Linked DNA regions of Homo sapiens: regions 1 and 3 are each linked to region 2. Evidence: fine-mapped expression QTL. A gene starts in region 2. Each other region holds a variant in brackets. All regions are shown on one strand. Distances are from middle to middle.

Region 1 (4,258 bases), 30 kb after region 2:
CTGGCAGAGCACACGCTGCCTCCGGGCACGGCGGAGAACCCCCTGGGCTGTGCCGTCTATGGCATCCTCCTGCAGCCAGACCCCGGCCTGCAGCCCCCACAACACGCACCCCTGCAGGCAGCAGGAGAGCCAGGCCCCAAATGTGGCGTGTGTGGTCACGACCTGGCGCACCTGTCCAGTCCGCATGAGCACCAGTGTCTGGCGGGCCATGACCGCTCATTCCAGTGCACACAGTGTCTCAAGATCTTCCACCAGGCCACTGACCTGCTGGAGCACCAGTGCGTGCAGGCTGAGCAGAAGCCCTTCGTCTGTGGGGTCTGCAAGATGGGCTTCTCACTACTCACCTCACTGGCACAGCACCACAGCTCCCACAGTGGCCTGGTGAAGTGTTCCATCTGTGAAAAGACCTACAAGCCAGCTGAGGCAGCGGAGCCAGCCACCACAGCCGCCCCGTCGCTTCCCGCAGCACCCGCGCCTTCCACTGTCACCCCTGCTGAACAGGCCGACAAGCCCTACAGCTGCCCCATCTGCCAAAAGCCCTTCAAGCACCTGTCGGAGCTCTCTCGGCATGAGCGGATCCACACCGGTGAGAAGCCCTACAAGTGCACGCTGTGTGACAAAAGCTTCAGCCAGTCGTCGCACCTGGTGCACCACAAGCGCACGCACAGCTCCGAGCGGCCCTACAAGTGCGCAGTCTGCGAGAAGACCTTCAAGCACCGCTCTCACCTGGTGCGCCACATGTACGCGCACTCGGGCGAGCACCACCTGTTCCGCTGCAACGTGTGCGAGTTGCATTTCAAGGAGTCGTCGGAGCTGCTGCAGCACCCGTGCACGCCAAGTGGGGAGCGGCCCTTCCGCTGCGGCGAGTGCCAGAAGGCCTTCAAGCGGCCCTCGGACCTGCGGCAGCATGAGCGCACACACAGCGCCGAGCGGCCCTTCAAGTGCGACCTGTGCCCCATGGGCTTCAAGCAGCAGTACGCACTGATGCGCCACCGGCGCACACACAAGACCGAGGAGCCCTTCAAATGCGGCCTATGTGAGAAGGGCTTTGGGCAGCCCAGCCACCTGCTCTACCACCAGCACGTGCACACCCTCGAGACTCTCTTCAAGTGCCCCGTGTGCCAGAAAGGCTTTGACCAATCTGCCGAGCTGCTGCGGCACAAGTGCCTGCCCGGCGCGGCCGAGCGGCCCTTCAAGTGCCCTGTGTGCAACAAGGCCTACAAGCGCGCGTCGGCCCTGCAGAAGCACCAGCTGGCCCACTGTGCGGCGGCAGAGAAGCCCCTGCGCTGCACGCTTTGCGAACGCCGCTTCTTCTCCTCTTCCGAGTTCGTGCAGCACCGCTGCGATCCGGCCCGCGAGAAGCCACTCAAGTGCCCAGACTGCGAGAAACGCTTCAAGTACGCGTCAGACCTGCAGCGGCACCGGCGGGTACACACAGGCGAGAAGCCCTACAAGTGCCCCAACTGCGACAAGGCCTTCAAGCAGCGGGAGCATCTCAACAAGCACCAGGGCGTGCACGCCCGCGAGCAGCAGTTCAAGTGTGTATGGTGCGGGGAGCGCTTCCTAGACGTGGCCTTGTTGCAGGAGCACAGCGCGCAGCACAGTGCCGCCGCCGCGGCAGCGGAGGGCGCCTACCAGGTAGCCGCCTGCCTGCCCTGACTCTGCGGCTGTGGCCCCTACCAGCCTGACCTGAGTCGGCGCCGTGGGCCCAGCAGGCCTCGCGCAGCCTAGCTCCTCACAGCTGCCTTGCACCAAGGGCCCCACCCAGCTCGGTGTTCTGAGACCTCGGGAGTGAGGACGCAGGGGTATGAGGCAGGGAGAGGGTGTGCCGCTCGTACTCCTGGCACCAGCGGGCAGTGCGGGCGGCCAGATTGCTGTGGCCCATCCTGATTCCACAAACCTCTTTCCCATGACAAGATTCACTTTCTTGAGAGCCATCAGCACCCCCCTTATTTCCGGGGCACTGGAGCCAGGCTGGAAGTCAAGTGGCTTCTCCCTGCCCTAAGGAGGGTGTGATGCCAGCCCAACCTTCCCATATCTTTCAAGCTAGCAGCCACATAGGTTAGGAAAGCGGAGGCTCATGGTGGGGCTGGGGCCCCAGAGGTGGGCTAGGTGTAAGGCATCA[G/C]TTGCCGTGTGGGGGAGAAGGCCAGCTTTAAGACGTAGGCCTGGGGACTGGGAGGGCAGAGGGTGAGTCACAGCCCTCTCCGTCTGCTCTAGCCAGGGGCGACGTGTCCCCAGGTTTCTGGCAGGGGAGATGTGCAGGGTGGGTCTTGGGGCTGGGTCTGCCTGGAGACCAGTGGGCCCAGGGGGAAGGGGGAAGCTGAGAAGTTCGTGTGACACCCTCAGCCAAGGGACAGTGCCATCCTTGGGGACAGGAGGAAAAGCAGCCTGTCTCTGCTAAGGGCAAATCCTCCGGTTTTGGAAGCGCCCCTCCCACCTTTGTAGTGCAGTTCCTAGGTGTGGTGGGGAATGTGCCGTGCTCTCAGCAGACAGAACTGCTGGTGTGAAAGGCAGGGATTGTCAGCCCACCTGAGGCTGGGAGGAAGCAGGACCAGGCCTAGGATCTCCCCAGCAGATGCAAACAAGTGTCCTCCCCTGAATTGTGTGAACCAAAGCGTCAGGGGCTTGGGGCACAGCCCCAGTCAGCTCAACCCAGTCCTGCTTCAGAGCCAAGACTAGGCCAGGGTGGGGACCCCCCCAGTACCCTCCCTACATCAATGTGGCTGCTGGCCTGGACCCCAGGGGTCTGGTACAGCCAAGATGTTCTGGACAACATCCAGCTACTTCAAAGGCCAGAGTGTCCTTTGGGTCCTCCTAGAGTCCCCCTAGGTCTCTGGCTGCCCATGAGGCTCATGAAGCAGAGGGTATCCCAGTCATAGGGAGCAGAAAGAGCAAGTGGGTTAAGGAAGCCTGTGGGGGACCTGGTGGATGGAGTTGACCAACATCGCTGGGTGGCTACGGCCCTCCTTAGGAAGCCCAGAAGGACCTTTATTATTAAAATAATCATTTTGAACCCTGCTCTATCCCCTGCCCTCTTCCAGCCCCACCCCTCCCTGGTCTTGAAAGAAGACTAATCAGTGGGCACACCAAGGGCCCTGAGGGGCAGGGAGATGCCACCATGCTTCTCTGTCACCGTAAGAAGGCTGACCAGCCACGCCCACCTCCTCTGTCTGACTGAGTTCCTTCCTGTGGCCACAGGGAGGGGCTGGTCCTTCCCCTCGGTGCTGGCTCTCTGTCACAATGCCTCAAAAGACATGGAACCCAGGCCTACAACCGTCCCAACTGCTAATTCTTTTCCTTTCATTTTGCTTTCTGAAAGCAGTTTGTTATACTATTCATAACATTGTAGAGTTTAATTTCATGTCATTTTGGATCTTATATAAAAATGTGAGGATTTGGATTTTTAAAAAGAATGACTCCATTTTAGGTAGCCACTTTTGATGTTAATATATAGTGAGTCCAATGTATGCTTTAGAAGTAAAGACATTGACCGTCACAGACCACTGCACTGCTTGTTCTGCTCCTTCTTCCACAGGGGAACGATGGACATGGAGAGGCAGAGAGGGGCACAGGCCTGAGTGGCGGCTTGGAGACTGGGGCATAGGGCTGGGTTTGAATCCTGAGCTTTGAACGTTCTGGCTGTGTGGCCTTGGGAACCTCTTTGGGACTCAGTTGCCTCATCTGTAAAATGGGGAGGTTCACCTTGCCTTGCTTGGTTGTTGTGAGAATTAAATAGAGCCCTATAGAAAGTCCCTGGTGGGGATGTTTGAAGATGCTGACAGTACCAACTCCAGGACACCTGGGATTTTCAGGAATGAGCCTGAGACCTCCTCACTTCCATTGGCTTTAACCACAGCCCCCGAAGTGGGAGCTGACCTGTGAGAGAGCAGCAGCTCATGGAAGCCTGGAAGCCAGGCACTGGGCCTGGTGAGCATGAGAGCTTGCGCAGCCCCAGTGGAAAACCAAGGGCCTGCCTGCAGCAGCAGCAGATGCAGCCAGCCCGGCCCTGCCCCAGAGGAGGGGGAGGACTTGCTGTCACCCCACAACCACCCACCCTGTCACACAGTGACCCTTCTGCATGGTCAGCCCAGCTGCCTCCCACCTGAGCCCCTCCAGCACACCTTTCCTCCTGCACCCCGTCCCTGCCCCCGTGGCCCAGCTGCAACTCAGGCTCTGTCTGTTGCTCAAAGGTGGGGATAGAGGTAGGGGAGAGAGAGGGAAAAACAGCCTCCCAGGCCCGGGCACCTGAGAGCCAGTG
Region 2 (4,000 bases):
TCACCAACAGGAGCCCCCTAAAGCTCCTCCTGCCTGTGTGAATGGGGTGGGGGAGGGTGGCCAGACTGGGTCGGGGCGGGGCTCCTATCCTGCCTCCCACCAGGGCCTGGCTCCTCCTTCAGCTCTCCCTGGCCAGGCCAGGGAGGGAGGGCAGAGCAGGTGGGGAAATGGCTGGGAGGTGTAACTCGAGCCCAGGAGGAATTCCCTGCCCTTCCTCTATGCTTTTATTAAAGTAGGGCGGGGAAGGGCAAGCTTCCATCGGAAAAATCTCCCAGGCAGCCCGGAGAGGTGGGAAAGCCGCCGTGGGCCAGGGAGGGAGCACCAGCTGAGCTGCAAATAGAAACGGCGCTCAGGCCCGCAGCCCGGGCAGCCCAAGGGCACCAAGGCCTGAGCACCGTTCAGAAGCGGCTCCGGGGTGGTTCTTTCTCCCTACTCCCCGCCCAAGTCCTCTCCCCGCCTATCTGGGGCAGGGCGCAGGTCTTAGAAGTCGGGGAAGAGTGGACCCTGCTCTTGCTCTGGGGCAAGAAAGCTGGCGCCTTCGGTGTCCTCGCTCGGGAGACACCATGGAGCTGGGGCGCTGGCTGGACTCGGCTCTACGCCGGGATGTCGCGCCTGGTCACCCGCGGGACCCATCCAGAGCGGGGCCCCGGGAGGGACGCCAAGCGGGCTCCTAGCGAAGAGAGGCGCGGGGTCCACCCTCTCGAATCCAGGGCTTCGACGTAGGGGCGCTGTTGGGAGGAAGCGCTGTGGGAGGCAGGGTCCGTCCTTAGGACCCCGCCCGGGCGTGCCTAGGCTTCCTCGCAAAAGCGCAGAAAGTCGCCAAAGCGCCCCCGCAACCCGAGTCCGCTGCCTCAGCCGTTTGCACCCATCCCCCCGCCTCCATCCTGGCCCGCCGTGCGCGGCTCGGTATCACCCAGACGGGAGGCCACCTGGGCAGGAGCGCAGTTGCCCAGCCGCCCAGCTCTTGCTCCGCCTGTGGCTGTCCCCGAGAGCAGCCCCCTCCCCACTCGCAAAGAGCGCCACTGCGCGCCAGCCGGGCTCTCGAGGAATCGGCTGCCCTGGAGGGAAGGAAGGAGGGGAGGCAAGGGCTGGGGGCGGCGGAAGCGGCTCCCGGGACACAGGCTGAATGTAAGGGGGTCGGGGTGGGGGCTCAGTGCCCAGAACAGGGCTGTAGGAGTAGCGGGGAGGAGAGCGAGGCCCTGCGCCCTCAAGGGTTTGCGAAGAGGTGCGCTGCAGAGGGCGAGCTGGGGAGGGGCAGACTGCCAAGTCCGCTTGCTTCCCCGCCACGGCCCAGAACAGGGGGCGCGTCTCCGCTCCCTCCACCTCCAAGTCCCAGCCTGCGGACGTGGCGCCTCTCCCTCCAAGCCCCCAGCCCGCAGCCAAAGGGCAGGGCGGGGGTCTTACCTCGGCATGGACCTCCGCGTCTTCGGCCGCTACGCCAAGGCCCAGGCAGCCCAGAAGCACCAGGAGCAGCGGCAGCAGTCGCGGCCGCGCCGCCTCCTCCCGGTCGCCGAGGAGGCTGCCCGTCCAGCCCGGCCGTCCGGGCGCGCTCGGGTCGCTGCCCATGCTCTCGGCGCCCAGCCCAGCTCGGAACACTGCACGCCGGATCCTCGCACGCGCCTTGGAAACTTGCGACGCTCCCTGGCTCCTGGCCCGGCAGGCGCGCCGCGGACCTCGGGCTCCCGGTCCCCGCCGGAGCCGCCTAGGTCGCCTCGGCAAATTCCCAAGCCCGAGGAGAAGCGGGCAGGGCAGGTCCGGGAGCTCGGAACCAGCCGGCGGGAAAGGGGGCCGACCGGAGCTGCCCCCGGCGAGGTTCCGCAGCCTCGGCGCCCAGCGCCTGGGGCCCGGCTCCCGAGAGCAAGCGCAACTCCGGAGCCTTTGTCTGGCTCAGCGCTCCGGCCGCCCGGTCCCGCGGCGCTCCCTGCGCGCCCAGCTCCCTCTGTCCATGCCCGGGGCCGGGCGCTGCCCGGAGCGCGCGCCTCCTGCACGGGGATTCTGCTCGCCGCCGCGCCCGACCGGGCCCGGGTCCCCAAGCAGTCCCGGGAGGAGGCGCAGGGAGCCGACCCGAGAGAGCGAGCGAGAGAGCAAGCGAGCCAGCCAAGGAGCGGGCGCCCGACGTCCCCGGCGAGTTCAGCGCGGCTCCGGGCGCTCCCAGCCCTCCTCCCCGCGCGCCGCGGCCGCCGCGCTCTTAAAGGGCCAGTGTGCTCCCAATGCGCGGACCCGGGCGGGGACCGGGGGCGGTGCCCCAGCCGCAGGCTTCTCACAAGCAGGTGCGGGCGGCCGAGGCCCGACAGGTGGGCGGTCCGTTTACGCTTCCCAGACGGCAGGAAACCTCTCCAGCCCACCCCGCGTCACTCCCAACCCAGCGCCTAGGGGGCGGGGGTGACCTCCAACGCGACCCCCCGCGGAGGGAGGAGGCAGGGAAGGCGTGGTCTCCCCGCCTGGGAAGAATGAAGACTCCTCCTTCTCATACCTGGTGGGGGATACCGAGGCCTAGGCGGACGGGAAGGAGGTCTTAGGGGAGGGATCAAAGAGTCGTTTTAGGCTTAAATATAAATATATATGTATATATGGATATTTGTCAGCCTGAAACCTCTTTTCAAAAGCCGCAGGGTGTCTCTGGCCATTGAATAACTTTCCTCAGTAGCAAAGTGAGGGTTTTGTGCGCGTCGAGGGCGCGTTGCGGCGGACAAGGGGCAGGTTTAGGAGGGACACGGTTCAAGTTCCGCGTCCGCCCCTTAGCTGCCGCTTGCACGTGGGCAAATTAATCTCTCCGAGCCTCCATGTTCTTATCGGGAACGTGGGGCAAAGAGTTGGGGTGAGGGCGAGGTAAGACTTCCGGCTCCTGGCCTGGCGCAATAGGTGCCCAAGCACTTTGGCCACTGGCTGGTGCGAGTGAAGTGCGACAGTGCGGCCGGAGTCGGCGCGGGGCGGGTGGACACACCTCCCCGCGAAGCTTAACGAGCTGGATTTCATTCTATTCCGGAAGCAGCTTGAGGTCGGGGCGGGGTGGATGCAGGAGGCCAGAGCTGGGAGGCCCGGGTCGAAGGTCCACCGAGACCCGGGGACCAGGCCAAGGGCAGCCCTGGCGCGGCGGACTGGCCGGCGTGGTCAGTGGGTGAGGGTTGCAGGCAGGAGGGCGGAGACCGAAGATAAGCTGTTCCTTATCTTCAGACCCGGAAATGGAAGCCGTCCTCACCTGAGGGCGGTTTTCTCTAGAGCAGGCCCTCGGGGCACCCTAGCCGGCCTCACCTCCCGGAAACTGGAAATCAGGAGACCTGGCAGAGTGCCTTAGAGAGGGCGCGTTTGAACCCTCCTGGGATGTCCTTGGGGAAAGGAAGTCGGAGTTTAGAGAAAGGAACCGGGCGATTCTATCATTTCCACGGACTCACTTCTCTGTGGGATCCTTCATCTGGGAAGTTGGTTTCTAAATTCTCCACTTCGAAATTTGCTTTTGGGAAATGTGCAGTGGTCTTCAGACACGGACAACGGGGTTGTCCTTGTTTAACCGACCACGTCGCACTCTTTCATGATATTTAGTCCCGATTAGCCAATTTTAAAAAGTTTGGGGCTAGGTAAAGTGGCTCAAGCCTGTAATCCCAGCACTTTGGGAGACCGAAGTGGGAGGATTGCTTTAGCCCAGGAGTTCAAGACCAGCCTGGGCAACATGACAAGACCCCATCTGTACAAAGAATACAAAAATTAGCCAGGTGTGGTGGTGTACGTCTGTAGGCCCAGCTACTTGGGAGGCTGAGTTGGGAGGATCACTTGAACCCAGGAGGTTGAGGATGCAGTGAGCTATGATCATGCCGCTGCCCTTCAACCCGGCTGTCAGAGCGAGACACTGTCTCAGAAAAAAAGAAAAAAAAAGTTGGGGTTTAAGGGGCTAGCTGTTAGTGAGAGGAGCCCAGGAATGAGTGGAGCAACGTTCTTTGAGGCCTGGGTCGGTCAAGTCTGGTGATTTTCTCTCTGTTGGAGGTTCCTCTCTTGGGGTCCAATC
Region 3 (4,258 bases), 39 kb before region 2:
AGTGATCCACCCGGCTTGGCCTCCCAAAGTGCTGGGATTGACAGGCGTGAGACACTATGCCTGGCCTAAAGTACCACTTTCAAAGTAATCTTGAAAGGACTTGTTTACAGTGTTATTTAACACTTGGAATTGTGAAGTCATATCCCCAGGAAAAATTACTAAATCTGCATTAAATTTGCCTCTTTTTCACCCCAACTAATTCTTTTGGATGACTGCCATAAACATCCCAAATTAAAATTCTCTGAGGTCATTTCAGGCTATTGTGTCTTCCCCAAATAGTACTTCCTTGTTTAAAATGATCAGAAAACATCAGGTAATGCAAGACCTTTTATGAGAACTCGTACATACAGGGACTCTATCTTTTCTGAGTAATTATTTTGGAAGCGGAAAAAAAAGCATGCCTAATATTCAGGAATAGCTGGTCTGTACAGAAGTATTTGTTGTTCCATTGTTGTAATAGAAAACAATTGGAAATGCCCAAATATCCTAATTGAGTTATTTGATTGAATGGAATACTAAAGAGCAATTTAACAAAATCAAGGTGAATTTCTGCATAAGACTATAGACTTAAGAAGTATGCATCTCTTTTTGTATTACACAATCTATTTGGAAGGAATTGTAGTCAGTGATGGGAAGGGGAGGGGTTGCTGTGGTGGGAGGGAGAGTTACCCAGCTTTGCAGATAATTTGGGGCTTTCAAAACATGTTTTTACCCACATACATTTATTATTTATTCCAAAAAAAAACTAATTTAAAATGTAAGACTGGACATGGTGGCTTACGCCTTAATCTCAGCACTTTGGGAGGTCAAGGCAGGAGGATCGCTTGAGCCCAGGAGTTTGAGACCAGCCTGGGCAAGAAAGTGAGCCCTCATCTCTACAAAAAAATTTTTAAAAATTAGCCAGGCATGGTGGCATGTGCCTGTAGTCCCAGCTTCCTGGGAGGCTGAGGTGGGAGGATCGACTGAGCCCAGGACTTCAAGACCGCAGTGAGCTGTGATCATGCTGCTGCACCCTAGCCTGGGTTACACAGGGAGACCCTGTCTCAAAAGTTTTTTTTTTTTTTAATTATGAAATGTAGGCATTTGAAAAAGAATTAAAATTTTCATCCCAAGAATTGTATGCAATCATTTTGTTTAAGCCCTTAATGGTTCCCCTCAAAGCTGTCAAAATTTTCCCCTGCCCCCTACTATTGGGATAAGGACTAAGGAGAGGGGGTAACCACAGTGGGTGTCTCCTTTGGGGGCTCTATTCTCAGCAATGGGAGGACCCCTGTGTGACAAACTCAGGGCTCACTTCTCCATGAGGCCCAGCAGGCCCAGTGCCTAGGGCCTACAATATTTCTAGGAACCCACAAACATGTTGTAATTTTTTTTTTTTTTTTGGAGACTGAGTCTCGCTTTATCACCCAGGCTGGAGTGCAATGGTATGATCTCGGTTCACTGGAAACTCCGCCTCCCTGGCTCAAGCGATTCTCCTGCCAAGTAGCTGGAATTATAGGCACACATTACCATGCCTGGCTAATTTTTGTATTTTTAGTAGAGACAGGGTTTCACCATGTTGGCCAAGCTGGTCTCGAGTCCCTGACCCCAAGTGATCTGTCCACCTCGGCCTCCCAAAGTGCGGGGATTATAGGCGTGAGCCACCACTGTGCCCAGCCTGTAAGTTTTTTTAGTCAGCTAAAAAAAAAAAATCCAGCCGGGCACAGTGGCACATGCCTGTAATCCCAGCACTTTGGGAGGCCGAGGCAGGCGGATTACGAGGTCAAGCAATCAAGACCATCCTGGCCAACATGGTGAAACCCCGTCTCTACTAAAAATAAAAAAATTAGCTGGGCATGGTGGCGCACGCCTGTAGTCCCAGTTACTCAGGAGGCTGAGGCAGGAGAATCGCTTGAACCCAGAAGGCGGAGGTTGCAGTGAGTGAACCAAGATTGCGCCACTGCACTCCAGCTTGGTGATAGAATGAGACTCTGTCTCAAAAAAAACAAAACAAAACAAGAAAGAATCCAATCCAACCTGTAATTTTTTTTTTTTTTTTTTTTTTTTGAGACAGAGTGTCTTGTTCTGTCACCCAGGCTGGAGTGCAGTGGCACGATCTTGGCTCACTACAACCTTCACCTCCCAGTTTCAAGCGATTATCCTGGTTCAGCCCCCTGGTAGCTGGGATTACAGGAACGCACCACCATGTCCAGAGAATTTTTGTATTTTTAGTAGAGACAAAGTTTCACCATGTTGGCCAAGCTGGTCTCGAACTCCTGACCTCAAATGATCCACCTGCCTTGGCTTCCCAAAGTGCTGGGATTACAGATGTGAGCCACTGTGCCTGGCCTGGGTTGTATTTGTTTTGATATCAACACAGTTATAACATATAATTTTGTTTGTATATGCATACAAAAATTATACAAATTGTAAATATGTATATATATATATATATATATATATTTTTTTTTTTTTTTTTTTTTTTTTTTTTTTAATTTGAGACAGAGTCTTGCTCTGTCACCCAGGCTAGAGTGCAGTGGCATGATCTTGGCTCACTGCAACCTCCATCTCCCAGGTTCAAGTGATTCTCCT[G/C]CCTCAGCCTTTCGGGTAGCTGGGACTACAAGGTGCTCACCACCACACCCGGCTAAATTTTTTTTTTGTATTTTTAGTAGACACGGGGTTTCACCATGTTAGCCAGGATGGTCTCGATCTCCTGACCTCGTGATCTGCCCGCCTCGGCCTCCCAAAGTGCTGGGATTACAGGCGTGAGCCACCGCGCCTGGCTGTAGATATTTATAATTTAAAAATTATACAATTATATATATAACATATATTACATATATTTGTAATTTTTTTTTTTTCACAAAAAGGGCTCGTGAAGACAAAATGGCCTAGAAAATCATAATGTGGTTCATGGGCAAATTTTTCTGCAAAGAGACAGATAATAAATTTTCAGGCTTGGGAGCCAGATGGTCTCTGCTGCAACTCAGCTCTGCCCTTGTAGCAGAAAGCTGCTATAGACAATACACAAATGGGTGGGAGTGATTGTGCTTCAATAAAACTTTATAAAAGCAGACGACCGGTTGTGGTGACTCACGCCTGTAATCCCAGCACTTTGGGAGGCCGAGGTGGGCGGATCACCAGGTCAAGAGATCGAGACCAGCCTGGCCAACATGGTGAAACCCCGTCTTTACTAAAAATACAAAAATTAGCTGGGCGTGGTGGCGCGTGCCCGTATTCCCAGCTATTCGGGAGGCTGAGACAGGAGAATCGCTTGACCCGGGAGGCAGAGGTTGCAGTGAGCCGAGATCACGCCACTGCACTCCAGCCTGGGTGACAGAGTGAGAATCCGTCTCAAAAAAAAAATTGATAAAATAAATTAATTAAAAATAAAAATAAAAAAATAAAAGCAGACAGTGGGCCCACTTTGGTCAGAGGGCCATAGTTTGCAGCCTCTGCAGCTGGTACTCAGTAAATGCCAACACAGTATTTGCTGAATGCATGAAGGAACTGGAGAGAGGTTGATCCCTGTCCGGTGGCTGAGTTAGGGGAGGGAGGAGAATAACAGGGAGTGGCTACTGGGCTGGCGGTCAGTTTTCTTTGTGTTTCTTCAGCCCCTAATTTGCTCTGTGACCTTGGGCAAGCTGTCGCCCCTTGGTGGGCCTCAGCCTCTGTCTGTGGGATGAGGGCAGCACCTCTCATTTGCTGGACTGTGTGAAGGGGATGAAATGTCACGAGGATGTGGAAGTGCTTGGAATAGAAAGAGGAGATTCCCTGTAGGCACCACAGGGCAGGAACTGCCCGCTTCCTGGAGGCCTGACAGCCTGGGGAATGTCAATTTGGCAGAGGAAAGAAGGGGGTGGGGGCAGCCAACACTGTGACCCGAAACGCAAACAGTCCCCAGAGAGGGGCCGAAACTCTCAGGTTGGTGAAAACACCCTTGTCAGGTTTCTATCCTGCCTCTGAGCAGGACAGGGGAAGGTGCCTGGTGCCCCAGTGTGAGGACTGTTGATTGGCCTGGACACCTGCTTAAAGCTGGAGTTTGCTTCTTAGCAGCCAGAGTCCCAGCCCCATGGAGGAAGCCCCATGTCCCCATCTCACCACAGGGCCACCAGATGACCTGGTCAGGCAAGCTGTATTGTGACCTGGACGGGCAATCTGGAAGCATGTATTGAAACTGACAACACACCAATGTCAGGTGTATTACTTAGATTCCTGTCAAGTTACACAATTCACTCCAGGTGGGCCAAATAAACAGTAGAGTTTTCATGACTTGTGT

Which allele goes with the higher level. Alleles are on the strand shown, and positions count from the first base shown. SD is a standard deviation of normalised expression in the study named. Not every link is listed here.
With allele C in place of G in region 3, the expression in skin of the gene that starts at base 2,163 in region 2 is lower (small effect, 0.24 SD a copy in TwinsUK).

What was found. PIP is the estimated chance that this variant, and not a neighbour inherited with it, causes the effect.
Region 1: its variant is the best candidate, but not a certain one, in a credible set for the expression of MMP15 in sigmoid colon (GTEx, PIP 0.62).
Region 3: its variant is the best candidate, but not a certain one, in a credible set for the expression of MMP15 in skin (TwinsUK, PIP 0.87).

The regions. Positions count from the first base shown.
Region 1 is chr16:57,993,918-57,998,175 of GRCh38, reverse strand. It overlaps ZNF319 (zinc finger protein 319), which reads left to right. Exons shown (of 2, transcript NM_020807.3): 2 at 1-3,500. The coding sequence ends at 1,659. Among named protein-coding and RNA genes, the nearest start is that of ZNF319, 4.6 kb to the left of the region's middle. The variant G/C (reference allele first, on the strand shown) is at 2,126.
Region 2 is chr16:58,023,917-58,027,916 of GRCh38, reverse strand. MMP15 (matrix metallopeptidase 15) reads right to left here and starts at 2,163. Exons shown (of 10, transcript NM_002428.4): 1 at 1,405-2,163. The coding sequence starts at 1,566. RefSeq lists enhancers at 499-1,048, 1,599-2,148, 2,381-2,966, 2,967-3,554 and a silencer at 2,015-2,154.
Region 3 is chr16:58,063,201-58,067,458 of GRCh38, reverse strand. No RefSeq gene overlaps it. Among named protein-coding and RNA genes, the nearest start is that of MMP15, 40 kb to the right of the region's middle. The variant G/C (reference allele first, on the strand shown) is at 2,572.